Linked DNA regions of Homo sapiens: regions 1 and 3 are each linked to region 2. The links come from fine-mapping of genetic effects on gene expression. Tissue or cell type: whole blood. Region 2 holds a variant in brackets; each other region holds the start of a gene. All regions are shown on one strand. Distances are from middle to middle.

Evidence for each region. PIP is the estimated chance that this variant, and not a neighbour inherited with it, causes the effect.
Region 1: it holds the start of C20orf204, and the variant in region 2 is fine-mapped to the expression of C20orf204 in whole blood (TOPMed, PIP above 0.99). The same link has a PIP of 0.9 or more in T cells.
Region 3: it holds the start of PRPF6, and the variant in region 2 is fine-mapped to the expression of PRPF6 in whole blood (TOPMed, PIP above 0.99). The same link has a PIP of 0.9 or more in T cells and blood mononuclear cells.

What each region holds. Positions count from the first base shown.
Region 1 is chr20:64,032,427-64,040,426 of GRCh38, forward strand. C20orf204 (chromosome 20 open reading frame 204) reads left to right here and starts at 3,756. Exons shown (of 4, transcript NM_001387010.1): 1 at 3,756-3,900; 2 at 5,501-5,776; 3 at 5,870-6,022; 4 at 6,196-6,575. The coding sequence starts at 3,898. The coding sequence ends at 6,333. It overlaps PRPF6 (pre-mRNA processing factor 6), which reads left to right. Exons shown (of 21, transcript NM_012469.4): 21 at 415-674. The coding sequence ends at 567. RefSeq lists enhancers at 2,919-3,148, 4,036-4,629, 4,099-4,198, 4,630-5,223 and silencers at 5,869-5,938, 6,039-6,358, 6,549-6,828.
Region 2 is chr20:64,011,522-64,019,521 of GRCh38, forward strand. It overlaps PRPF6 (pre-mRNA processing factor 6), which reads left to right. Exons shown (of 21, transcript NM_012469.4): 12 at 5,202-5,324. Among named protein-coding and RNA genes, the nearest start is that of C20orf204, 21 kb to the right of the region's middle. RefSeq lists enhancers at 1-1,120, 5,178-6,377. The variant C/T (reference allele first, on the strand shown) is at 3,728.
Region 3 is chr20:63,977,166-63,985,165 of GRCh38, forward strand. PRPF6 (pre-mRNA processing factor 6) reads left to right here and starts at 3,967. Exons shown (of 21, transcript NM_012469.4): 1 at 3,967-4,151; 2 at 5,882-6,050; 3 at 7,742-7,860. The coding sequence starts at 4,081. SAMD10 (sterile alpha motif domain containing 10) reads right to left here and starts at 2,477. Exons shown (of 5, transcript NM_080621.5): 1 at 2,212-2,477; 2 at 60-241. The coding sequence starts at 2,302. RefSeq lists enhancers at 1,631-1,925, 1,911-2,426, 3,022-3,081 and silencers at 2,272-2,591, 4,152-4,261.

The DNA.
Region 1 (8,000 bases), 21 kb after region 2:
AGCCCCTCTGCTCCCACCCGCCCCGCTAGAGCCAAGCGTTGTCTGAGCTGTGCTGGAGGCAGTCAGGCTGTCCTGGTCCTCCCTGGAAAGTGTTGCCAGCCCACGTGAACCCTAACTCCTTGTTTGGAGAAGGCAGACGTGAGCACTTGTGTGAGGCACAGACATGGGGAGCCTGGCTCAGTTCCTCATCTGTGGGCTGAGGCTGGTGGGGTCCATGCTCCTCAGGAGGTGGGGCTCCTTTGAGGAACACACCTGAAAGAGCCTTGCCTTCCGGTGCAGGGCCTGTGCCCTCTGGCCCGCCAGTTGGGGTTGGTGCTGCCAGGGCCAGGTCTGCAGGGGCCAGGCGAGAAGCAGGCGAGGTCCGGGGAGTAGCGTGGGAGGACCCCTGCCTGACGTGCCCTGTGGTCCCCCCAGGAGCAGCAGGAGGAGGTGAGGAAGCGCTGTGAGAGTGCAGAGCCTCGGCATGGGGAGCTGTGGTGCGCCGTGTCCAAGGACATCGCCAACTGGCAGAAGAAGATCGGGGACATCCTTAGGCTGGTGGCCGGCCGCATCAAGAACACCTTCTGATTGAGCGGTTGCCATGGCCGGTCTCCGTGGGGCAGGGTTGGGCCGCATGTGGAAGGGCTCTGAGCTGTGTCCTCCTTCATTAAAAGTTTTTATGTCTCGTGTCAGAACAGGCAGCCTGCTGGTTTTCTCTGGGGCCCTTCTCTGGCTCCTGCTTCTGCTGCCCCAGTCTGGCCTGTCCTGGCCTGTCCCATGCCGTCCTGGGGTGGCTGTGATCGCCCTTGCTTGGACAGAAGCCTCTTGCAGACAGCCGGTGTCTCACAGAGGAGGCACTGTGGAGGTGCCCGGGTTCCCCAAGACTGTGGAGAAGGTGGTAGGGGTGCAGATGTTCTGGCCAAAAGCCCTGTGAGGACAGCTGGAGACAGTGGGGACCAAGCTGCATGCAGGACGCAGGTGCTCGCAGGAGCCTGGCAGCCGCCTGCAAGGGTCTTGGTCAGGGGACAGCTGGGGCCTCCCTGGGGTCTGAGTGCAAACAGGAGAACCCAGCTCTGCGCAGGGCCTCTCCACACAGCCTCCCGGGCCCCTCAGGCATGTGCTGAGTGACAGTGTCACCAGTAAGAGGCGTTCTTTCTTTTGGAGGTGAGTTCATTTTTTTATTTTTGAGACAGTCTCGCTCTGTCGCCCAGGCTGGAGTGCAGTGGCACGATCTCGGCTCACTGCAACCTCTGCCTCCTGGGTTCAAGCAATTCTCCTGTCTCAGCCTCCCGAGTAGCTGGGACTACAGGCGCCCGCTGCCAAACTCCTGACCTCAGGTGATCCATCTGCCTCAGCTTCCCAAAGTGCTGGGATTACAGGCGTGAGCCACCGCACCCGGCCGTGAGTTTATCTTTGCTAATTTATCATTCGCAGTTTAACCCTAAAGCCCTTGTAATGGTTCTCATCTCCAGGTTGAACAGTGATGGTTCTCATCTCTAGGTTGAACGTTGATCACCCGAGAGACTTGGCTTCTCTTCAGCCTTAGCTGTGTAAGGATAAAGGACGTCCTCAGGCCTGGGATCATGTGTGTGCATTCAGTTGGGAGCCAGCTGGTTCTTGTGTAGGCCGGGGCTAGAGACATCTGGCTGGAGGTCATGGCTGGCCCAGAGGGTGTGGGTGGACAGTCGTTGAGGCCAGCGGGCGGGGAGGAGGGCGCTGTCATGTGGGCTGAGGAGGCTGCTGGAGAGCAGCTGTCCCTGGATGTTCCTTGTGAGAGGGGAGCCCTGGAGGGTCCCGGCCTGTCTTGTGGTACCGATGGCAGGGCCTGTGGTGGTGGTCAGTCACTGACCCACAGCTCTGCCCACCTGCACATGGGGGCCTGTGCTAGGCCTTGTGGTCTGCCTGCCCTGCTCCTGACGAGTGAGAATGGCTGGGGTGGGAGATCCCTGCCTGCACGTGGGGCGGTCCTGGTAGACCAGAATGTGGGTGTGGGTCCCCCTTCCCTGTGGTTCTGGGGACCTTGAGGACATGGTCAATCCCGGGCAAGGGACCTGCCACCCCTGTATGGGGTCAGGAACTGCTGGTTGGTCTCTGCTGGGCAGGCAACCTGGGGTCCAGCTCAAATCGTTGGAATGTGGAAGTCCTTCCTCTCGCCCCGTCCTGAGGAGCAGCTGCAGGAGCTTCATGAGTGTTTTCACTGGAACTTGTGGAGGAGTTTCCTTTGATCCCTCATGGAGAGACGGAAGCATGAGGGAGCCCTCAACATTTATTCTGAAGATGAAGAGAGTCCTGCAGCTTTTTGGAGTTTGTGAAGTCAGCCCGGCCCTGTACAGATGTGGAAACCGAGGCCCAGGAAGTTTGTGAGCCAGCCCGGCCCTGTACAGGTGTGGAAACCGAGGCCCAGGAAGTTTGTGAGCCAGCCCGGCCCTGTACAGATGTGGAAACCGAGGCCCAGGAAGTTTGTGAGCCAGCCTGGCCCTGTACAGATGTGGAAACCGAGGCGTAGGAAGGAAGCCCTTCTCTGACCTCAGAGCTGAAATGGCCAGTGCTGGGTGGGCATTGAGGGGTCACACAGAAAAGAATGTTTCAGGCCATGTTCAGGGGATACTTCCTGCAGGGCCCTTGGAAAGTTCCGGAGCGCTTACATTGTCCATGTGTGAGTGTCTCCTCTTTCTTGCCTGTGTGGGGTTTTCTCAAATGCTTTGAGTTGGCCAAACCACAGTTGTGCGCCACTTAACAGTGCGGATACATTCTGAGAAAAACCTCGTTAGGTGATGTCGTCTTGCAAACATTAAAGAGTGCATTTACACAAGGCTGGCAGGCACGGCCTCCTGCACCCCCAGGCTGTGTGCCCGGGTGCCAGAGCCTGGGGCTCCTGGGCTGCAGACCTGCACAGCCTGTCACAGCATTTAATCACATCCAAACACGGAAAAGGCAAAAACGTAAAGATGCAGTGTTACAATCCTAGGGGACTCCTGTCACCTGTGTGGTCTGTTCTTGACTATTGTGAGTCACTGACTTTTCCCCCTGGGAAACTACCTTAACTTGTCTTCAACTGAAATTTTTTCAGCCTGCAAAGATGAGTTGTGCCTCAGAGGTTGCTCGTGTTCTGAGGTGCCTCTTCACCACTGCCTGTCAGGCTGCTAACCAGAGTGCCCCAGACCACAGCAGAAGCGACAGCAGCCAAGGATCGGGGGAGCCCACCCTGCTCCTGGGTATCTTTACGGCAGGCAGCAGAGTAACAGCCTCAGACTTACCTCTTCAGCCAGAGACCCCTCAGCCCAGGAGGAGTGAGGCCGGGCCAGCAGCGGGGGCCCGGGAAGCCCCATGTCTTGGGACCTGCTGGGGCAGGGCCCCCTGGATGTCAGGCTGCAGGTCCGGCAGCTGGGGAGGGGATGAGGGCCTCCCACCAGCTCTGCCCATCAGCCAGATCCCTGGGAGAGGCAGCACTTGCTGGCCACAGAGTCGGCCCCAGTCTCACCTGGCTCCCCTCCCCCACCAGCTGGGCCCTGCACTGCCCCAGCCCACGCGGCGCCTCACCCCTCCTTGACAGAACAGTATCTCTGGGACGGACAAGTTAATCCAAGACCCACAGTAGCCCTGGATCCCCTGGGAGAGGTGGCTGCCCAGCTCCAGGGCCAGGTTAATTGAAGTGATAGGGAGTGGAGAGAGGGAGGGGGCAGGGCTGGGATTGCGTGGCCTTTCCTTCCCTCTCCTGCTCCCTCCCTCAGCTTGGAGGAGCCAACTTCAAAAGCCTCCGCCTGGCCTGCCCCTCTGCAGTCCTCCAGGCAGCCTGTCCAGGGAAGCGGTTGGCTGGTGTTGGACCTGGTGCGGCAGTGCACACCCTGCCCAAGGACCCCAGGATCATGTGCGTGGCCTGCTGGCGGGAGTGAGGGAGGGCAAGACCCTGAAAGGCCCATGGTGAGCAGCTGTGGGCCTCCTCTAGGGAGGGGGCTTACTTGGGTGGAGGGGCTGGGGGTACACACAGCTCAGGAGACACTGCTTGTTCCCCTGAGCCCCACCAGGAAATCTCCGGTTGGCTCTGGTCACTGCGTCCCTGTGGGTGGCACTGGGTGCATGTGCCCTGGCTTCTGGCAGTTGGGGGAGGGGGGCTCCTGGGTGCCGGGCAACCCTGTTCTAAGCTGGGCTGAGGCTTGAGCCTGGAAGTGGTACTAACAGGCCAGTTGGGACTCCCAGGGCAGCCAGTCTGCCCCACCTGGGTGGGACACAGCAGGTGCTGGACATCCTTGCAGCTCCAGCTGGCCTGCTCAGGAGTCAGGCTCTGGTTCTCGCTATGACCTCTGACCCAGAGCAGGCAGAGGGAATGACGTGGCAATTCTGAGCCCACCAAGTTGGCTGTGGCGTGTGTGGTTGGGGGGGTCAGGTTTCAGGAAGGGGCCACAGCAAGCCATCTGCTCTTCCAGCCATTGCTGCTTTGTGCTCTGAGCAGGAGCTGCCACCGCCCACCAGGCCCCCAGCTCTATGCAAGGGTTGGGGTGCTGCTTGTTCAGGCTCCCCTGACAGGGCTAGGAAGCCGAGTCGAGTCCTCTTATCTTGGTTGGGTTCGCATGATTAATTTCCAGCCCTAGATCTGCTGTCTGACTCCATCCTGGGGGCCCAGGGGAAGGGTTGGGGCTGGCCCCTTTTGGGTGGCTGGGAACCTGGGGGCCGTCAGCTGTCTCCTTGATGTTTGGGCTTTATCCCTGCGGGCGCAGGCCCTCCATTTTGGGTCGGGGGAGGCCTGTGGCACAGGCTGCCCGGAGGGATGGCGTGGGGCGGCTGGTACAGGCAGAGGGGCCTTTTGCGACTGTTGGTTGGGGCTGGATGTGGTGGCTCCTTCCTCCTCTATAGCTTCTGGGTGTCCCCCTAGCTTTCCCCTTCCAATAGGGTGTGGCTTGGAGCTCTGAGCCCCTGCCCCAGTTGGGTTGGGGGTACAAGGAGTCCCCAGTTCCCACGTCTCTGTGAGCTAACCCAGAGGGCGCCAGTATGGGAGGTGTGGAGTTGAATGGGCATGGCCATGAGTGAGACAGGCTGTACTGGGACAACTTCCTACTGTACCCCCAAGAGCCTGCAGACCAGCCCCACTAGAGCTGTACGGGGCTGGTGGGGGGCCCTGCTCTGTGCGGTCCTGAGGGTGCTCCACCCCTTGCTGGCCCCACTCCCACGTGGACCACAGAGCCAGGCTCTCCTGACTCTGGGCCTGCCCCCTCTATCTCCTGATGGGTTCTTCAGGACTCAGTGACATCGCCTCCCAGCCGACATCACTCACCCCTTTCACATCTTTGCAGGGAGCATAGAACTGTCTGGTTTGCAGACCTATCTCTTGTGTCTCCTGATTTATCCCGCCAGGCCTGTGCCTACAGCCTTTCTTGATTGGTGACACGTCCATTTCATTCGCTCAGAGATCCCGTGGGGTGGGGCAGGGGGTGGGGCTTCTACGGAAACAAAGTGCAGGTGGGCTGGCTGCTCCCTGTGCTGGGAACACCCCCCAGGCCTAACCCCAACCTGCTGTCTCCTCCAGGTACCCCCTAAGCCTGCACTCTGGGCGCTCCTGCTGGCGCTGCTGGGGACCGCGCCAAGCCGCGCCTATTCCCCGGCCTGCAGCGTCCCCGACGTGCTCCGCCACTATCGCGCCATCATCTTCGAGGATCTGCAGGCCGCCGTGAAGTGGGGCGGGGCGGGGGCCGAAAAGACCAGGCCAGGCTCCAGACACTTTCATTTCATACAGAAAAACCTGACTAGACCCGGGAGCTCGGGACGGCGGGGACGGCCTCGGGCCTCCTGTGGCGCCCAGAAGGTATGGAGGAGGCGCCCCTACCCAAGCTCGCCGGCCTGCTCCTCTCTCAGTTTCCCCCCACCCCCACCCCGCCTTCCTCCCTTCCCTCCCCAGGAGCACAGTATCCTCCTGTCCATCTCGTCCCTGGGTCGGACCCTGCGCGGGGCGGTGGCCGGGGGCCGCCGCGGGGCCCTGGAGAGAGCTGCTTGGACCGTGGCTGTGCGCACCGAGGCGGTGATGCGGCGCCACTGCAGGACGCTGCGCCAGGTGTGCGTCCCTGAGTGCACCCAGAGCCAGACCTCCCTTAACCCCCACAGGGCCGCCGCGCGTCCCGGGGCTCCACGGCCCTAGGCTGAAGTCGGGCTGGGTCGCGTCTCCCTTCCCGGGCCGGGCCGGGCGCGGGGGCCGTGCGCATTCGCTGACCGCCCTGTCCCCGACAGCGGAGCCGGCGGCCCAAGATGCGCCCTGCCCGGCGTCGCGGCGGCCGAAGGCAGCTCCTGCTGCGCGCCCTGGACGCCGTCGCCACCTGCTGGGAGAAGCTCTTCGCGCTGCGCGCCCCGGCCTCCAGGGACTCCTAGCGCGGCCCGTCCTGGCCCTGCGCGGGGAGGAGAACCAGCGGGGCCGCGGCAGAGCCTGGAGACGCGCCTCGTTCTGTAGACTTGTTGGTGACCTCGGCCCCTCGCTCGACGCAGCCCGCGCTCCCCGGAGGGCCCAGGACTTGGAGAAGGGAGCGCGCCTGGCCGCCGCTGGGTCACGGAGGAGGCCCGCCCTCCACGCGCCGAAGGCCTCAATAAACGGAGCTGGCGCTGCGGGTCCGGCACTCCCTTCGCCTGCCTCTCTGTGGGCCTAGGACCGCCCCGGGATCTGCGCCTCGGTGGCGGGGGGCGGTGGAGGGGGAATGCGGAGACCCGCACTTCCTGTGGCACCTGGACGGGGCGGAGCCGCCGCTCCCAGCCTCGGGCAGCAGAGGGCGGACGCGGGACGCTGGGCGCGCTCCGGCTCTGTCAGCGGCTCCCGGCTGGGCGGAGGGCAGAGCGGGGGACTCCTGGGGCCCCTAAAACGTCACGTATCCGTCCTGCTCCACTTTGGACCGGGGCCGGGGGTGGAAATTGAGGGGAGGGGAAGGCTGGACTTGGTGAATTCGGAGCAAAACAACCGGATAAAGGAAACGGGCCCGAAGGGAAGCGGGAGCTGCGGGCCTTGGCTGTGAGCTTGGCCAGGCTATTTCCTGCTGCCTCCGGAGGGGTGACCACGGCCTGGGCTCAGAGACTGCCCAGCCCCCTCTGCAGGACTGGCCAGGCTGGGGCCCGCTTTCTGGCCCCTGGAACCCTCCATTTGCTGGGGGACTGTCCCCTGGTTCCCCCATCTGATGCGCAGGTCTGGGAGTCTGTCACCCCCCTCCCCCAATCTCGGCCCATGGAGGAGCAGGGGAGGTAAAGTACCTGACACCTGTTACCCTCCCCTTCCCGGAAAGGCCGCGAGCAGGCTGTGCCTCTGGCATTCTGTGGGATCAGGGGCAGCAGCAGAAGAAAGAAGTAACCTCCCAAGCTGACCCTGACCCAGCCCCACACTCTGTGTTAATGTATTTAGTCTGTGCAACGGGAGCTACTGTCTCTGTTTTATAGATGGGGAAACTGAAGCACGAGGAGGCTGAGACTTGCCCCAAATCACAGCCAGCAATGTAAGAGCTGGCCTCAGACCCAGGCCCAGGGCATGGGATCTGCCACATGTCCCCTGCCTGGAGGCTGGGGGCCAAGCTTCCTGGACTTCAGAGCCTTGGATTCCCCTGCAGAGTTAGCACTTCTGACAGAGTCCCTGGCCATGCTCTGAGCACAAACACCTAGCAAGCATTCCCAGCCCTAGTTCTGCATTGCCTGCTCCGTGGGGGCCAGTGGGGGCAAGTGTGGGAGGGATGAGGGGGAGATGCAGGGTGCAGGAGCCCCAGCTGGAGCCAAAGCACTTGAGGGGGGTGCTTGGACTTATCCCGAGGCAGCGGAAGGTCTTTGGTGAAAGAGGGATGTTAGAGTTGGAATCTAGAAAGGTTCCCGTGACTTGTGTGGAGGGTTGGTGAGGACAAAGGGGTGGAGAGAGGTCCAGGCTGCCCAGGGTCCTGGCTGGAGTACCTGGGTGGGTCTGTGGGGAGCCTGAACATGGGAAGCACTAAAGGGGGAGTGGGTCGGTTTGAGGGCCCTGAGGGAGCTGGGGAACTGTGGACGTGGCTGGGCTCAGCTGGGCGTGCTGGTGT
Region 2 (8,000 bases):
TCGTGGTGTCTGCTTTAACAGTGCACATGCAGCACGTGAGAGTCCCACGCAGGACTGGGGGTTGCTGGATGGTACTGGGGAGTCCTGTGCCAAACCAGAAGCAGGCACAGGTGTGAATGGGCCCTGAGGGACCTGGGCATGCCCACTGTCGCTCTTGATGGATTCAGGCCTGGAGTTCGTCTTGGGGTGAACACTTCAGAAGCCCTTTCAGTGTGTGCACACCTGACTGCATTTCTTTGCTAGTAGAAATGATACACCTACGAGAGGAGGACAGGAAGTCTCATGGCTTCTTTCTTTGCTAGTAGAAATGATACACCTACGAGAGGAGGACAGGAAGTCTCACGGCTTCTTTCTTTGCTAGTAGAAATGATACACCTACGAGAGGAGGACAGGAAGTCTCACGGCTTCTTTCTTTGCTAGTAGAAATGATACACCTACGAGAGGAGGACAGGAAGTCTCACGGCTTCTTTCTTTGCTAGTAGAAATGATACACCTACGAGAGGAGGACAGGAAGTCTCACGGCTTCTTTCTTTGCTAGTAGAAATGATACACCTACGAGAGGAGGACAGGAAGTCTCACGGCTTCTTTCTTTGCTAGTAGAAATGATACACCTACGAGAGGAGGACAGGAAGTCTCACGGCTTCTTTCTTTGCTAGTAGAAATGATACACCTACGAGAGGAGGACAGGAAGTCTCACGGCTTCTTTCTTTGCTAGTAGAAATGATACACCTACGAGAGGAGGACAGGAAGTCTCACGGCTTCTTTCTTTGCTAGTAGAAATGATACACCTACGAGAGGAGGACAGGAAGTCTCACGGCTTCTTTCTTTGCTAGTAGAAATGATACACCTACGAGAGGAGGACAGGAAGTCTCACGGCTTCTTTCTTTGCTAGTAGAAATGATACACCTACGAGAGGAGGACAGGAAGTCTCACGGCTTCTTTCTTTGCTAGTAGAAATGATACACCTACGAGAGGAGGACAGGAAGTCTCACGGCTTCTTTCTTTGCTAGTAGAAATGATACACCTACGAGAGGAGGACAGGAAGTCTCACGGCTTTCTTTGCTAGTAGAAATGATACACCTACGAGAGGAGGACAGGAAGTCTCACGGCTTCTTTCTTTGCTAGTAGAAATGATACACCTACGAGAGGAGGACAGGAAGTCTCACGGCTTCTTTCTTTGCTAGTAGAAATGATACACCTACGAGAGGAGGACAGGAAGTCTCACGGCTTCTTTCTTTGCTAGTAGAAATGATACACCTACGAGAGGAGGACAGGAAGTCTCACGGCTTCTTTCTTTGCTAGTAGAAATGATACACCTACGAGAGGAGGACAGGAAGTCTCATGGCTTCTTTCTTTGCTAGTAGAAATGATACACCTACGAGAGGAGGACAGGAAGTCTCATGGCTTCTTTTACTCTTCCCCTCTCCCCCACACCCTTTTTTTTTTTTTTTTTTTGAGAGGGAGTCTTTCTGTCACCCAGGCTAGAGGGCTAGAGTGCAGTGGCACGATCTTGGCTTACTGCAACCTCCACCTCTTGGGTTCAAGCAGTTCTCCTACGTCAGTCACCTGAGTAGCTGGGATTACAGGCACCCGCCACCATACCCAGCTAATTTTTGTATTTTTAGAAGAGACAGAGTTTCACCATGTTGGCCAGGTTGGTCTCGAACTCCTGACCTCAAGCAACCTGCCCGCCTTGGTCTTCCCTGTCTTTTATCTTTGTCTGTAGACTTAAGGCTATAGAAAAGTTTCCAAAGATGATCTAACTTAGGAAGTAGGGCTTGGGTTCCCTCTAATGCCTTCTTTTAAGGAGTCACCCACTGAGTTATGTTTCTCTCAAGAAAAATAAATAATGAAATTACTATTTTCTGTTATATTTTATGACAGTTTGTCTTTCTTTCCTTCCTTCCTTTCTTCTTCTTTCTTTCTTTCCTTCTTTCTTTCTTGAGACAGGGTCTCGCCGTGTTGCTCAGGCCGGAGTGCAGTGGTGCAGTCATGGCTCACTGCATCCTTGACCTGGGCTCAAGCAATCCTCCCGCCTTAACCTCCCAAGTGGCTGGGACTACAGGCGTGTGCCACCATGCTTGGCCAATTTTTTTTATTTTTATTTTTTGTCTTGTTATGCTGCCCAGGCTGGTCTTAAACTCCTGGCCTTAAGCAATCCTGCCACTTCAGCCTCCCAAAGTGTTGAGATTACAGGCATCAGCTGCCATACCCAGCATATGACAGGTTATTAAGCTATAACTAGCGTTCTACAGAATCCACCCATTTAAAGTTTACGATTCAGTGGTTTTAGTATATTCACAGAGCTATGCGCTATCACCACAATCCTAGAACCTTCTCATCACCCCAGAAAGAAATCCTGTGTCCGTGAGTTGTTGCTCCCCATTTTCATACCTCTGTAGCCTTTTGTTTTTGTTTTTGTTTTTTTTTTGAGACAGGGTGGGTCTCTGTCTCCCAAGCTGGAGTGTATGGTGCAATCAATCTTGGCTCTCTGCCACATTTGCTTCCTGGGCTCAAGCAATTCTCCTGCCTCAGCCTCCTGAGTAGCTGGGACTACAGGCATGCGCCACCACACCTGGCTAATTTTTTTCTATTTTTTGTAGAGACGCGGTTTTGCCATGTTGTTCAGGCTGGTCTCAAACTCCTGAGCTCAGATGATCCACCTGCCTCGGCCTCCCAGAGTGCTGGGATTACAAGCGTGAGCCACCGTGCCTGTCTAACCTTGTTTTTTTACTTTCTTTCTCTACACATTTTTTTCTGGACATTTTATATACAGATGTTCAACTTATGGGCTTATATCCTGATAAACCCATTGTAAGTTGAAAATATCATAAGTCTAAAATGGATTTGAGGCTGGGTGCTGTGGCTCACACCTATAATCTCAGCACATTGCGGGGCTGAGGCGGGTGGATCACTTGAGGTCAGGAGTTTGAGACCAGCCTGGCCAACATGGTAAAACCCTGTCTCTACTAAAGATACAAAAAAATTAGCCAGGCATGATGGTGGGCACCTATAATTCCAGCTACTCGGGAGGCTGAGGCAGGAGAATTGCTTGAACCTGGCGGAGGCAGAGGTTGCAGTGAGCCGAGATCGTGACACTGTACTCCAGCCTGGGCAAAAGAGCGAGACTCTGTCTCAAAAAATAAATAAAATAAAATAAAATGAAATAAAATGCGTGTGATACACCTAACCTACTGAACTTTACAGCTTAGCCTGCCTACGTCAAACATGCTCAGAACACCTACCTTAGCCTACAGTTGGGCAGAGTCATCGAACGTAAAGTGTTGAATAACTCACGTAATTTATTGAATGCTACGATGAAAGTGAAAAACAGACTGGTGGTTTGAGTCAAAGTATTGCTTCTACTGAGCGTGGTGGCTTTTGCATCGTCCGACACCGTGAGTGGAATCACACGACACGTGGTCTTTTGTGACTGGCCTTAACTTAGTGTGTTTTCAGGGTTCCTCCATGTTGTAGCATGGAGGTATTGAAATCCTTTGCCTACTTTTACATTGGATTGTGTCTTTATTATGGTCTATGTATTATTTTTGTCTGTTGTTTTATTATTGAGTTGTAAGAGATGTTTTTATATATTCTGGATATATTGTCACTTATCAGAGACATGATTTGCAACTACAGATGGTCCCTGACTTCCCATGGTTTGACTTTTGCCGTGGTTCAAAAGCAGTTTGCATTCAGTAGAAACTGTCCATGGAGGAAGAGCCAG[C/T]GCAGTTTGCGTTCAGTAGAAACTGTCCATGGAGGAAGAGCCAGCACCTTTGCCGCAGGCCCCTGAGGGTCTGGGTGCTGGGTCCTTGCCCCACGCATTCTTCTCACCACTGACCTTTGTGCCAGCGTCTCTGCCTCAGATCCTTGCTCTTGGCTCTGCTTTCTGTCTGGGATGGTTTTCTGGTGCTGGCAGGGCCCTGGGAGGGTCTGGGAGGCATGTGGCTCCGGTTGCACTTTGCTCACGGTCCATGTCGTGGTCCCCCATGTTGGCATGCCGCAGTGGTGCCTGTGCTCCTGCACCCTGTTGCTCTGGCTGGGTTATTGTTCTCTTGTTGGTAGACACATTCTCTTGCACACATGGGAATATATTTGTCACATGAATGCCTTAAAGTAGAACTGCTGGGTCAAATATGTGCCTGTTTTATTTTGATAGAGAATGAGAAATTGCCCTCCATAGAGATATGTGCTTCTTTGCAGTATAAGATTTATGCCCCCTTCACCAAGTGAGCCAGTCAGCACATGTTTCAATGTTGCTCATCTGATACGTGCACAATGGTACTTAGAATAGTTTAATTAGCATCTTGAAAATAAGAATAGGGGCTGGGTGTGGTGGCTTATGCACTAATCCCAGCACTTTGGGAGGCTAAAGCAGGAGGGTTACTTGAGACCAGGAGTTTAACACCAGCCTAGGCAACATAAGGAGACCCTGTATCTATGAAACATAATGTACCATTGAGCATGGTGGTGCATGTCTGTGCTACTCGGGAGGCTGAGGTGAGAGTATCCCTTGAGCCTGGGAGTTGGAAGCTGCAGTGAACTATGATTGTACCACAGCACTTCAGCCTGAGTGACAGGGAGAGACCTTGACTCTCTCTCTTTTTTTTTTTTTTCTGAGACGTAGTCTTGCTCCGTTGCCCAGGCTGGAGTGGAGTGGCGTGATCTTGGCTTACTGCAACCTCCGCCTCCCGGGTTCAAGTGATTCTCCTGCCTCGGCCTCCCGAGTAAGCTGGGATTACGGGCACCCACCACCACGCCTGGCTAATTTTTGTATTTTATTTTTTAGTAGAGACAGGGTTTCACCAGGTTGGCCAGGCTGGTCTCGAACTCCTGACCACGTGATCCACCCTCGACCTCCCAAAGTGCTGGGATTACAGGTGTGAGCCCCCACACCTGGCTGAGACCTTGTCTCTTAAAAAAATAAAATAAAAAGGCTTTACATTTCTTTTCACATGTTTGAAAGTTGTTTGTATTTTTATTTTCTAGTGAACAGTGTGCCTATGTCCTTTGTGACATTTCTCTATTGTTTTTTCTGATTGGCGTGCAGTAGACTCACTTCCTCAGATCCCCAGTAGGCAGTGTCAGCATCTTGTGCTGATGTCTGTCAGTTTTAACCGTTCAGGAACTCCGTACTCCCCGTTGGGAATCTGCAGCTCTGATTTCCAAAATCACAAATAAGTTTTGTGTTCCTCTTTCAGGATGCCGAGGAATGTGACAGGGCTGGGAGTGTGGCCACCTGCCAGGCCGTCATGCGTGCCGTGATTGGGATTGGGATTGAGGAGGAAGATCGGAAGCATACCTGGATGGAGGATGCTGACAGTGTGAGTTGGCAACAGGGGCCTTTGTCCGTAATATGGAGTCTCTGCTTGTGGGAACAGCAGGCACCTTATAAACTACTAGGCTATTTTAAAACTCTTTTTTTTTTTTTTTAAATCTGAGACGGGGTCTTGCTCTGTCGCCCAGGCTGGAGTGCAGTGGCGCTATCTCAGCTCACTACAACCTCCACCTCCTGGGTTCACGCCATTCTCCTGCCTCAGCCTCCCGAGTAGCTGGGACTACAGGCATGTGCCACCACGCCCAGCTAATTTTTTGTATTTTTAGTAGAGACGGGGTTTCACCGTGTTAGCCAGGATGGTCTTAATCTCCTGACCTCGTGATCCACCCCGCCTTGGCTTCCCAAAGTGCTGGGATCACAGGCGTGAGCCACCGCGCCCGGCCTCCCAGAGTGCTGGGATCACAGGCGTGAGCCGCCATGCCTGGCCTCCCAAAGTGCTGGGATCACAGGCGTGAGCCACCGCGCCCGGCCTCCCAGAGTGCTGGGATCACAGGCGTGAGCCACCGCGCCCGGCCTCCCAGAGTGCTGGGATCACAGGCGTGAGCCGCCGCGCCCGGCCTCCCAGAGTGCTGGGATCACAGGCGTGAGCCGCCCTGCCCGGCCTCCCAGAGTGCTGGGATCACAGGCGTGAGCCGCCGCGCCCGGCCTCCCAGAGTGCTGGGATCACAGGCGTGAGCCGCCGCGCCCGGCCTCCCACGGTGCTGGGATCACAGGCGTGAGCTGCCGCGCCCGGCCTCCCACGGTGCTGGGATCACAGGCATGAGCCGCCGCGCCCGGCCTCCCAGAGTGCTGGGATCACAGGCGTGAGGCGCCACGCCTGGCCGCAGATTTGCTTTCTTACTCTGTTCGCTCTCATGCACTTACCTCTTATTTTTTTTTCTGGAACTGTTTGACAATGAATGAGTTGCAGATGTGGTGCCCTTTACCTTAAACACTTTGGTGTGTATTTCTTTAAAAGAGGACGTTCTCTTACACAGCCATAGCTCAGTTATCAAAATCAGGACATTGATGTTGGGACAGTGCTGTCAGGTAACTTCAGACCTTACTCAAATCTCACCCACAGGCTGGGCATGGGGCTGACGCCTGTAATTCCAGCACTTTGGGAGGCCGAGATGGGCAGATCGCTTGAGCTCGGGAGTTTGAAACCAGCCTGGGCAACATGGCAGAACACCATCTTTACAGAAACAAAAGCCAGGCATGGTGGTGCACGCTTGTAGTCCCAGCTACTCAGGAGGCTGAGGTGGGAGGATCACTTGAGCTCAGGAGTTTGGGGCCGTAGTGAGCTGTGATTGCGCCACTGCACTTCAGCCTGAGTGACAGCAAGACCCTATCTCAAAAAAAGAAAAAGTCTCACCCGTTGTCTCTGTGTCCTTTTAGCAGAAGAAAAAACCAACTGTCTTCTGTGAGGAATACAGGGTCATCCTCAGGCTAGTCTGGAAGAGAGCCTCAGCCTTTGTTGTTCCTGAGTGTGAATTTTTTGAGGACCACGGGCCAGTGATGCTGTAGACTCCTCTTTCATCTGGTTCTCTGTGGTGTCTCCTCCGGGTTGGGTTGAGGCTTCTTGGTGCATCATACGGAGAGGTGTGCACCTGTTCAACTCCGACCGTCTGGTGCGGGCAGTGGCCGCAGGTGTTTCCACTGTATGGTTGCTGTTTGTTTCTTTGTTATTATTAATAAGTATTTTGAGGATCCATTAATGATGCTTCTTGGCCTGAATCAGTTATTTCTGTGGTGTTTGCTAAATGGTGATTTTTTTTAAATCTTTTTTTATATATTAAATTTTTTTTGTAGAAACAGTATCTCACTATGTTGTCCAGGCTGGTTTCGAACTCCTGGCCTCAAGTGATCCCACCTCAGCCTCCCAAAGTATGTAGGATTACAGGCGTGTCACTGTGCCTGGTCACACCTGCATAATGATTTTGTGAACAGTTTCTCTTACATTTTATTAGTTGGAATTCTACAGTAACGAAGAGCTTCACTTTCTCCTTCATCCGTGTGCGTTCACTTCCTTCCATCTGGATTGGTCAATGGCTCCTCCTTTGGTCCTTGGAATCAGACCCCACTGCTGGCATTGACCGTGTGATACACACATGATTCTTTTGCACCCCGTGTGGCGTGACCCAGAGCTTGTGTGCCGGCTGGGCCATCCTCCTGCCCCATGTATGCTAAAATACACACATCAATCCTTAGGTGAGTTAAGACGCAGGGCAGCGGTAATAGTTTTTGTTGTTGGTTTTTTTTTTTTTTTTTTTTGGGACAGAGTCTCACTCTGTCTCCTAGGCTGGATGGAGTCCAGTGGCACGATCTTGGCTCACTGCAACCTCCGCCTCCCAGGTTCAAGGGTTCAAGCAATTCTCCTGCCTCAGCCTCCTGAGTAGCTGGGACTACAGGTGCCTGCCACCACACCTGGCTAATTTTTATATTTTTTATAGAGATGAGGTTTCGCCATGTTGGCCAGGCTGGTCTCGAACTCCTGACTTCAGGCCATCCACCTGCCTCAGCCTCCCAGAGCCACTGCTCCTGGCCTGTTTTTCTCTTATTATTTTGTCATCTCTTTCACATACACTGGAGTAAGCACAGCTGTTTTTCAAAGTGCTCGTGATGCTAGAGTAAGGAGGACAGTGTTTTCTGTGCCCAGAAGTGTGCTGTGGTGCTGCTTCCC
Region 3 (8,000 bases), 34 kb before region 2:
CAGAGTGAGAGTGGTGGAGAAGGAGGGCAGGGACGGAGGTGGGTGGAGTGGGTGGGTACCTGGGGGGTGTCTGTGCCGGGCTGCTGCAGGAGCTTGATTGGCCTGCTGCTGGCCGCCCTCTGGCTGCGGGAGTCATGCCACGTGAGGCTGGTGCCAGGTGTCCGAGGCAAGTGGCAGGGGATGCTCTCAGCTGACACCGTGTGCTCCAGGAGGGTCCGGCAGAAGCTGAAGTGGGCAGTGGCTGTGTGTGGGGGTGCCTGGTCAGGGCAGTCAAGGGCAGAACCAGAGGCTTCCTCTACTTGAGAGCTAGCTCCCTGCCCCATCTCCTCCACACTAGTGCGGGAAATCACCTCCCCAATGAGGGGTTCCCAAGCCTCCAAAGGCAGAAGGAAGTGTGCAGGACCTGTTTCGAGGACCTCACCCAGCACAAAAAGAGAAGAACTGGAAACACCTTTCATCTTGCAAGTCTACAGCCCTCACCCAGGGGAGCAGGATGGATTCTTAGATCAGAGGATGTGCCCTCTAGGGAAGGGAACCTGAGACATATGACAAGAGGAGCTATCCTGGGACAGCCCTGACCTCACCCTTGCCTTGGGCTGGCCCACAAGTCTTGCACACACCACACCAGACCAGGAAGTGCACACACGGCCTGCTTTGAGGAAAGGCAGATCCCGAGTCCGGGGAGGTCGTCTGTGCTGGGGAAACCGGGCTGAGGATGCTGCTTGCCCATCGCCACTGAAGGCACCCAGTTCACACAGCCCTATCTGGTGTTGGGGCCCGACTCACTGACTATGACTCATTGACAGCCTGAACTGTGGGCCAACTGACAAGCAGGGCTCACTCCGCAAACACGCGCTGGGCTCTCCAGCTGTGCCGCCCCCCACAGGGCCTGCAGCCCGGGACAACACCGGCCATGTGAATGGTGGGTACCCATTGGATATGGGCGGGTCAGCACAGGTATGTGGGGTGCAGCCATTGCTTGGGGACCCACGGTGATGCTCTGTGCTCCCTCTTCCCACAGTAACTGCATTAAAGTGTTTCATCTGAGCTTTGTCATCATCTCTGGGGGCACTGCTGACCTGAGTCTGGGGAGGCAGGCGTCTTGATCCAGGTCTGGTTACAGAGGGGCACCCCACATTCATTGTCAATGAATGAATGAATGAAGGCTCTGTATGGTATCTGCAAGTGAACAGAGCCTGTGGGGAGACAGAAGGTGGGCACAGGCCTGCCCCTGTCTTTACAGCACCCTAGCACCCAGGCCTTCAGCAGGGCAGGTGAGGTTCCCACGCTAGGGCCCTCATCCCATCCACCCTAGAGTGAGAGACCCTCCCGGCCTCAGACTCAGCCACCCACTCCACACCCAGGGCAGGGGTTGGGGATGTGTCTAGGAGGTCTAAGTATCGGTGAAAACCACATCCTACTTCCCCGTCCTCCCACGCCTGTAAGACTTAGGAGACATAACACCTTCCGCCCCCATTCTTGCAACTTTCAGGAACCGGACCCCTGGGTGACTCCAAATTTGAGGTCTGGGGTCAGCAGAGGGTGTGCTCAGTGGGCCACCGCCCCGAGGTGGCCCCTAGTGCTGTGGGAAAAGGCTTATTCTAAGCCCGCGCCTTCCAGCGGACAGGCGCCGTGGTCGCCGGGCTTTGCAGGGCCTCGAGCGGCGGGGCTGGTGCAGAAGCGCGCGGCAGTCCGGGGAAACCCGTCGGACTCCTCAGCCCGCACGGCACCTGCCCCGGCCAAGCAGGCTCCGCCCATTTCCTGCCTGCACTCCCGGAGGGAGTTCCGTCCGTCCCGCGGTCTGTCGGTCCGGTCCCTCCCGCCCCAACGTCAGGATTCCAGAAGGAAATGGGGCGGGGGCACCGAGGCGGGATGTGACCTCGGCCCCCTTTCGGCCCCACTGCAAAAGCGGGGGAGGGTTTTCCCCGTGCGCAGGAAAAGGTGACCCGAGCGTAGTGCCAGCCTGGACACAGGCGCCCCGGCTTGACACCCCCTCACCCCAAGCCAAGGGCGCGCTGACCCCCAAGGCCTGAGGCTGGCTGCCCCCTAAAGCAGGACAAAGGCTACGGGACCCCGTTGAGCCGAGACATCCGCCGAATACCCCCAGCCACCGCCGCTCGAAGCCCGCCGGGTCCCGCCCCGCCCCCGTGCCTCTGGGTCCCTGAGACCCCCGCCCGAGAAATCCCCGCTCCCCAATCCAGCCCCGCTCACCGTCCACATCCCGGCGCTCCCCGAAGCCCGCGCGCACGGCCCCGGCGCGGCCACGCGGGGGGCTCAGCTTGGACCTCAGCTCGGTGAACATGGGGCCCGCGGGTGCCAGGCCCGCGCACACGCCCCTCGCCGAGTGCAGGGCGGCCGGTGTGGCCGGCGGGGAACGCGCGCCGCCGCCCCGCCCCGCCCCAGCCGGCCCCGCGCCCGAGCCGGTCCCCGCGGCCCGCGAGTGTGCGCGACGAGGCACCTGCCGCCGAGCCCTGTGTGCCGGGCGCGCTCCGGGAGCTCCGAGGTGTGTCGGCGGCGCGCGGGCCTGCGTGCACCAAGGCTGTCCGCCAGGGCGAGGGGCGTCCGTGCGCCCCTGGGCACGGCTCCGCGGAGGAGAGTCCCCGTGAACCTGCCGGGCGTCCTCTGAGGTCGGGCCCCTCTGTGCGTGGGGGTGGGCTGAGGGGCATCTCACAGGGGTCTTCTACCTACCGGGGCCAGGACAAGGGGCAGGTCAACGCCTCCCACACACTTTCCTCGGTCTCCTACGTCTTTACTCGCCTTCAAATAGGCACCCGCTTCCCCGGAGAAACCAGCTTGACTCTTGCTTACCGCCCACCCCACTGTGAACATCAGGGTGGTTCTCCCTTCCCTCTGCAGCCCCAGAACCTGGCTCAGTGCCCGGGGGAGAGGGGGCGGTACAGTGCTCTGTAACTGAAAGGGGCTTGGCTTGCCTGGAGATGGGGCAGAGGGGAACTCCAAGGAGGCTGTAGCAGGCCGGAGCGGTGTGTTTGCTCCAGGACTCCAGTGAGAAGTGCTGAGATGGGGCTGGGCTAGGGAACTGTGGTTGCCTGGTGCAGCAGCAGGCCAGGCTTGCAACCAGCTATTCGGCTTGCTCTGCCCAGGAGCCTGGGTGCTCTCCCTGGGTGTATGTAGGGGCTCTGGAGGATGTCTTACAGCAGGAGGACCAGAGATGCACACAGACATGTAGAAATGCATGCACAGAGTACAGTCATGCACTTGCACCCAAAACACGAGCACACGTGACCTCTGTGCACACACCCCACTAATCACACACACAGAATTCACCCACATGCTTGACAGCCATGTTCATGTACTGACGTGTTCCCGACAGCTCAGCTGCGGTTATTTATTTCGTCAATTAGCTCTCCAGGAGCTAAGGATGTGGCCCTCACCAGAATGTCCAAGGCATGTTGGCGGGCGTGGGTGGGGTCTCTAGTCCCACTGGAGGGACAGATGCCTGAATGGGGGTTCAAGAATATGAGTGCTAAAAGCGTAGGGCAGCAGTGTGCGCACAGGACGCACACAGACAGGTGTGCCCATAACCAGTACACACAAGCTCTACACAACTGGACAGGGTACAGCTCTGCTCGGACAGGGCGCACCAGGGGCGAGGGCGGGCAGCTGGGCTGGTTCAGAGGGAGGGGGCCATGGGTTCAGAGGGAGGGGACCATGGGTCCCACTCTCACAGACAGGTCTCCGGACTGCATCAGAGCACTCGGGAAGCAGCAATGCCCCAGGCTGTTTTTAGCCCCCAGGGGCCAGTTAGGGTCCCAGTGCAAGCTCGACCTAGCTTCTTCCGCCTCTCCACGAGGAGGCGCTCCCGCGCACGCGCCTACCACGTTCCTGCCCCCTAGCCGCGGCCGGAAGTCGTCGAACCAGGACGTCGGGACTTCCGCCCAGGGAATCAAAAGTGGGCGGGGCGTGTGCGGACTGAGCGCTCTGCTTCCGGGGCGCGGGTGACGCGACGACGGCGACACTTTGCTACGGAGTGCATCGGACGTCGAAGCCTAGAGTCTCTGCGTCTTTCCCTCTTCCGCTGCCTCATTCCTTTCCTTCCTAGCCTTGGTCGTCGCCGCCACCATGAACAAGAAGAAGAAACCGTTCCTAGGGATGCCCGCGCCCCTCGGCTACGTGCCGGGGCTGGGCCGGGGGTGAGGCCTGGGGCGGCGCGCGAGGGGCGGGGACCCGGCTACAGGAGCGCAGTGCTTTGGGGCGTGTTTGGGGGCGGGGGTCTATGGCCGCGCAGTCTGAAAGACGCTTGGTGGATCGGCTTAATCCCTGCAGGAAGCAACGGGCTTTGGGGTCAGGACATACCTGTGTGTGCACCCTGCTTGCCGCCTAGATGTGACACATTGACTCTCAGCCCAGTGTTTTGGTCTGTAAGATGGGTAATGCTGTATACGGTCTGCAGTGAGGAGTAGAGGAATCTGACGTGTAGTGGAAACACGCGACCACCTTCCTCAGGTCGGGCTGACACTCCCCCCCCCCGCCCGCCCGCCCGCCCCGCCTTAAGCGTGCCTGGGTCCTCTATGCCTGCAACACAGATGACCACCGTGCGTTGCTGGATAAGTGAGCAGTCGTTATTATCCTATTTGGCTATTCATTTGATGAGGAACACTACTGGGTTTTTCTTGGTGGTGGTATTATATTGGAATCTGTGGGGCACACACAAGCTCACTAAGGAGGGTTTGCTATTACCATAAATAAGTACGTAAAGAGGACCAGATTTAGAACCCAGTGCTTAATGGAGAGTAGCATTGGAGCCAAGTTTAGTAAGAGAGCTGGACTTAGGGCTGTAGAAACGGTGACGATAGAAGAGAAACTGACATTCTGCGTGTGGGAGTTCAAAAAAAGTGAGGCAAGGAGGAAGCCCAGGGAACAGGAGGGAGTCCAGTGTGAGTGGAATGTACAGCGAATAGAATAGAGCTCAGGAGGTTGGAGGGGCCTTGAGCGTCAGGCTAGAGCTCCTGGAGACGTTAGAAAGATCATGACCCTTCAGAATTATTATTATTATTATTATTTTTTGAGACAAAGTCTTGTTCTGTCGCCCAAGCTGGAGTGCAATGGTGCGATCTCAGCTCCCTGCAATCTCTGCCCCCCGGGTTCAAGCAGTTCTCTGCCTCAGCCTCCTGAGTAGCTGGGATTATAGGTGCCCGCTACCACGCCCGGCTAATTTTTGTATTTTTAGTAGAGACAGGGTTTCACCATGTTGGCCAGGGGGGTCTTGAACTCCTGACCTCATGATCCACCCGCCTCCGTCTCCCAAAGTGCTGGGATTACAGGCGTGAGCCACCACGCCCGGCCCAGAATTTTTTACTCAGAGCTGTGTTTTGGGAAGAATCATCTGGCAGAGCATGGGTTGAAGTAGAGGAAGGCTAAAGGCAGGGAGAGGTAACTTGGTTTCCAGCTGTGATGGGAGTCATAGTCTGGGAAGGAGGGATTTTGAAAGTGGATTCATTAGTACTTGGGGACAGACAGGATGGGGAAAGTGGGAGAGGGAGGCAAAAATTACATCATGGTCCCGTGGCATCTGGGACAGCTGTTATCAGCTGAAACCCCCCAGAGCAGCTGTAAGGTGGGCACGGAAGAGCTCAGTGTGGGCCAAGTTGGGTTTAAGGGCCTGGTTGGATGTGGAGGGGGAGATGATCGAAGCCTTAGGGTGGAGAGAGATTGCCTTGGTAACATCATCAGGGTAGGCTGAAACTTTCAGGTAAGCAGAGAAGATCAGAAGTGTTTGAGACTGCAGTTCATTGTCACCAGGATCTTTGGAGGTTTCCCAAAGGTGTTAGAAAAAGAGGTGTTAGTAAGTGATAACCAGGAGTGGAGAAGAGCACAGGAACAGAGTTATTCAGACACCCGGTGTCTTGGGGGTCTCCTGCAGCGCCACTGGCTTCACCACGCGGTCAGACATTGGGCCCGCCCGTGATGCAAATGACCCTGTGGATGATCGCCATGCACCCCCAGGCAAGAGAACCGTTGGGGACCAGATGAAGAAAAATCAGGCTGCTGACGATGACGACGAGGATCTAAATGACACCAATTACGATGAGGTGAGATGTGTCCGGCTTTCGTGGCTCCTCCAGCCAGTCTCTGGGAGCAGCTGACCTAACCAGTGTGTGTTGGTGTCTGTAATGAATGGCTTGGAGTGGCTCATGCATTTAAATTTTAGCTATTCATGGAACATCTTTACTGAGAGTGAGAGGGAGCAGGAAAAACACGGAGAAATGTGCACTTTTTGTCCCTCAGAAGAGATGTTCTTGCAGGTGTTAGGACCACTGCCTTGGCATTTTCTATTGCCCAGTCTTTTTTTTTTTTGAGACGGAATTTCGCTCTTGTCGGAAGAGATGTTCTTGCAGGTGTTAGGACCACTGCCTTGGCATTTCCTATTGGCCAGTCTTTTTTTTTTGAGATGGAATTTCGCTCTTGTCGGAAGAGATGTTCTTGCAGGTGTTAGGACCACTGCCTTGGCATTTCCTATTGGCCAGTCTTTTTTTTTTTTTTTTTTTGAGACGGACTTTCGCTCTTGTTGGCCAGGCTGGAGTGCAGTGGTGTGATCTCAGCTCACTGTGACCTCTGCCTCCCCATTTCAAGCGATTCTCCTGCCTCAGTCTCCAAGTAACTGGGATTACAGGCATGCGCCACCATGCCTGGCTAATTTTGTATTTTTAGTAGAGACAGGGTTTCTCCATGTTGGTCAGGCTGGTCTCGAACTCCTGACTTCAGGTTGTCCGCACGCTTCGGCTTCCCAAAGTGTTGGGATTACAGGCGTGAGCCACTGCGCCTGGCTGCCAGTCTTTAATGATAAAAACTTAAAGTGGAATTGGTGATAGTATTTGCTTTTTTTAGCTTTAGTGATTGCCCTCTAAACAGACATCTAAAGAAAAACTTCAGCTGACTGAATACCGATTAACTGTCTTCTAACAGATGACATTTTTCCTCTGAGGAAAATTTTTAAAAATAATTTTAGTTTTGAGGCCAGGTGCGGTAGCTCACACCTATAATCCTGGCACTTTTGGAGGCCGAGGTGGGCGGATCATGAGGCCAGGATATCGAGACCATCCTGTTTAACATGGTGAAACCCCGTCTCTACTAAAACTACACAAAAATTAGCCGGGCATGGTGGCATGTGCCTGTAGTCCCAGCTACTCGGGAGGCTGAGGCAGAAGAATGCTGTGAACCCGGGAGGCGGAGGTTGCGGTGAGCCAAGATTGCGCCACTGCACTCCAGCCTTGGCGAGAGTGCGAGACTCTGTCTCAGAAAAAAAAAAAAAATTAGTTTTGAAATAATTTTAAATTTGCAGGAATTTGCAAAAATAGTGCCCCCCCAAAAAAAAGTTTCTGCATGTCTTTCACCAAGCTTCTCCCGATGTTACATGACCTTAGTGCAGTTATTGAAACGAAGGAGTTAACATTGACACAGTACTATTAACTAATTTGTCAGTCGTATTTGCATTTCATGTTTTTCCATGAATGTCCGCTTTCTGGCTTAGGCTTAGTCCAGGATCCCCCATTGCATTTCGTCATGTCTCCTTGGTCCCTTCCAATTGGGGGTCTCCTCTGTCTTCCATGCCCTTGACGCTTGAAGAGTAGTCACCAGTTATATGGTAGACTGTCCCTTGATTTGGCTTCGTTGGCTGAAGAAAATAATTTAGCAAGTATTTCACAAGTAGAGATCTCCGTTTCGCTGGTGGGGATGGTGTTGAAGGAAAAGCTGACCTCTACACGTGTTGTTTGCTTCTCAGTTTAATGGCTATGCTGGGAGCCTCTTCTCAAGTGGACCCTACGAGAAAGATGATGAGGAAGCAGATGCTATCTATGCAGCCCTGGATAAAAGGATGGATGAAAGAAGAAAAGAAAGACGGTAAAAGAAATTGTTGCCTTTCACAATATTTATCCAAGTTTAAAAAAAAGTTTTGTGGCCAGGCGCAGTGGCTCACGTGTGTAATCCTAGCACTTTGAGAGGCTGAGGTAGGACGATAGCTAGAGCCCAGGGGTTTGAGA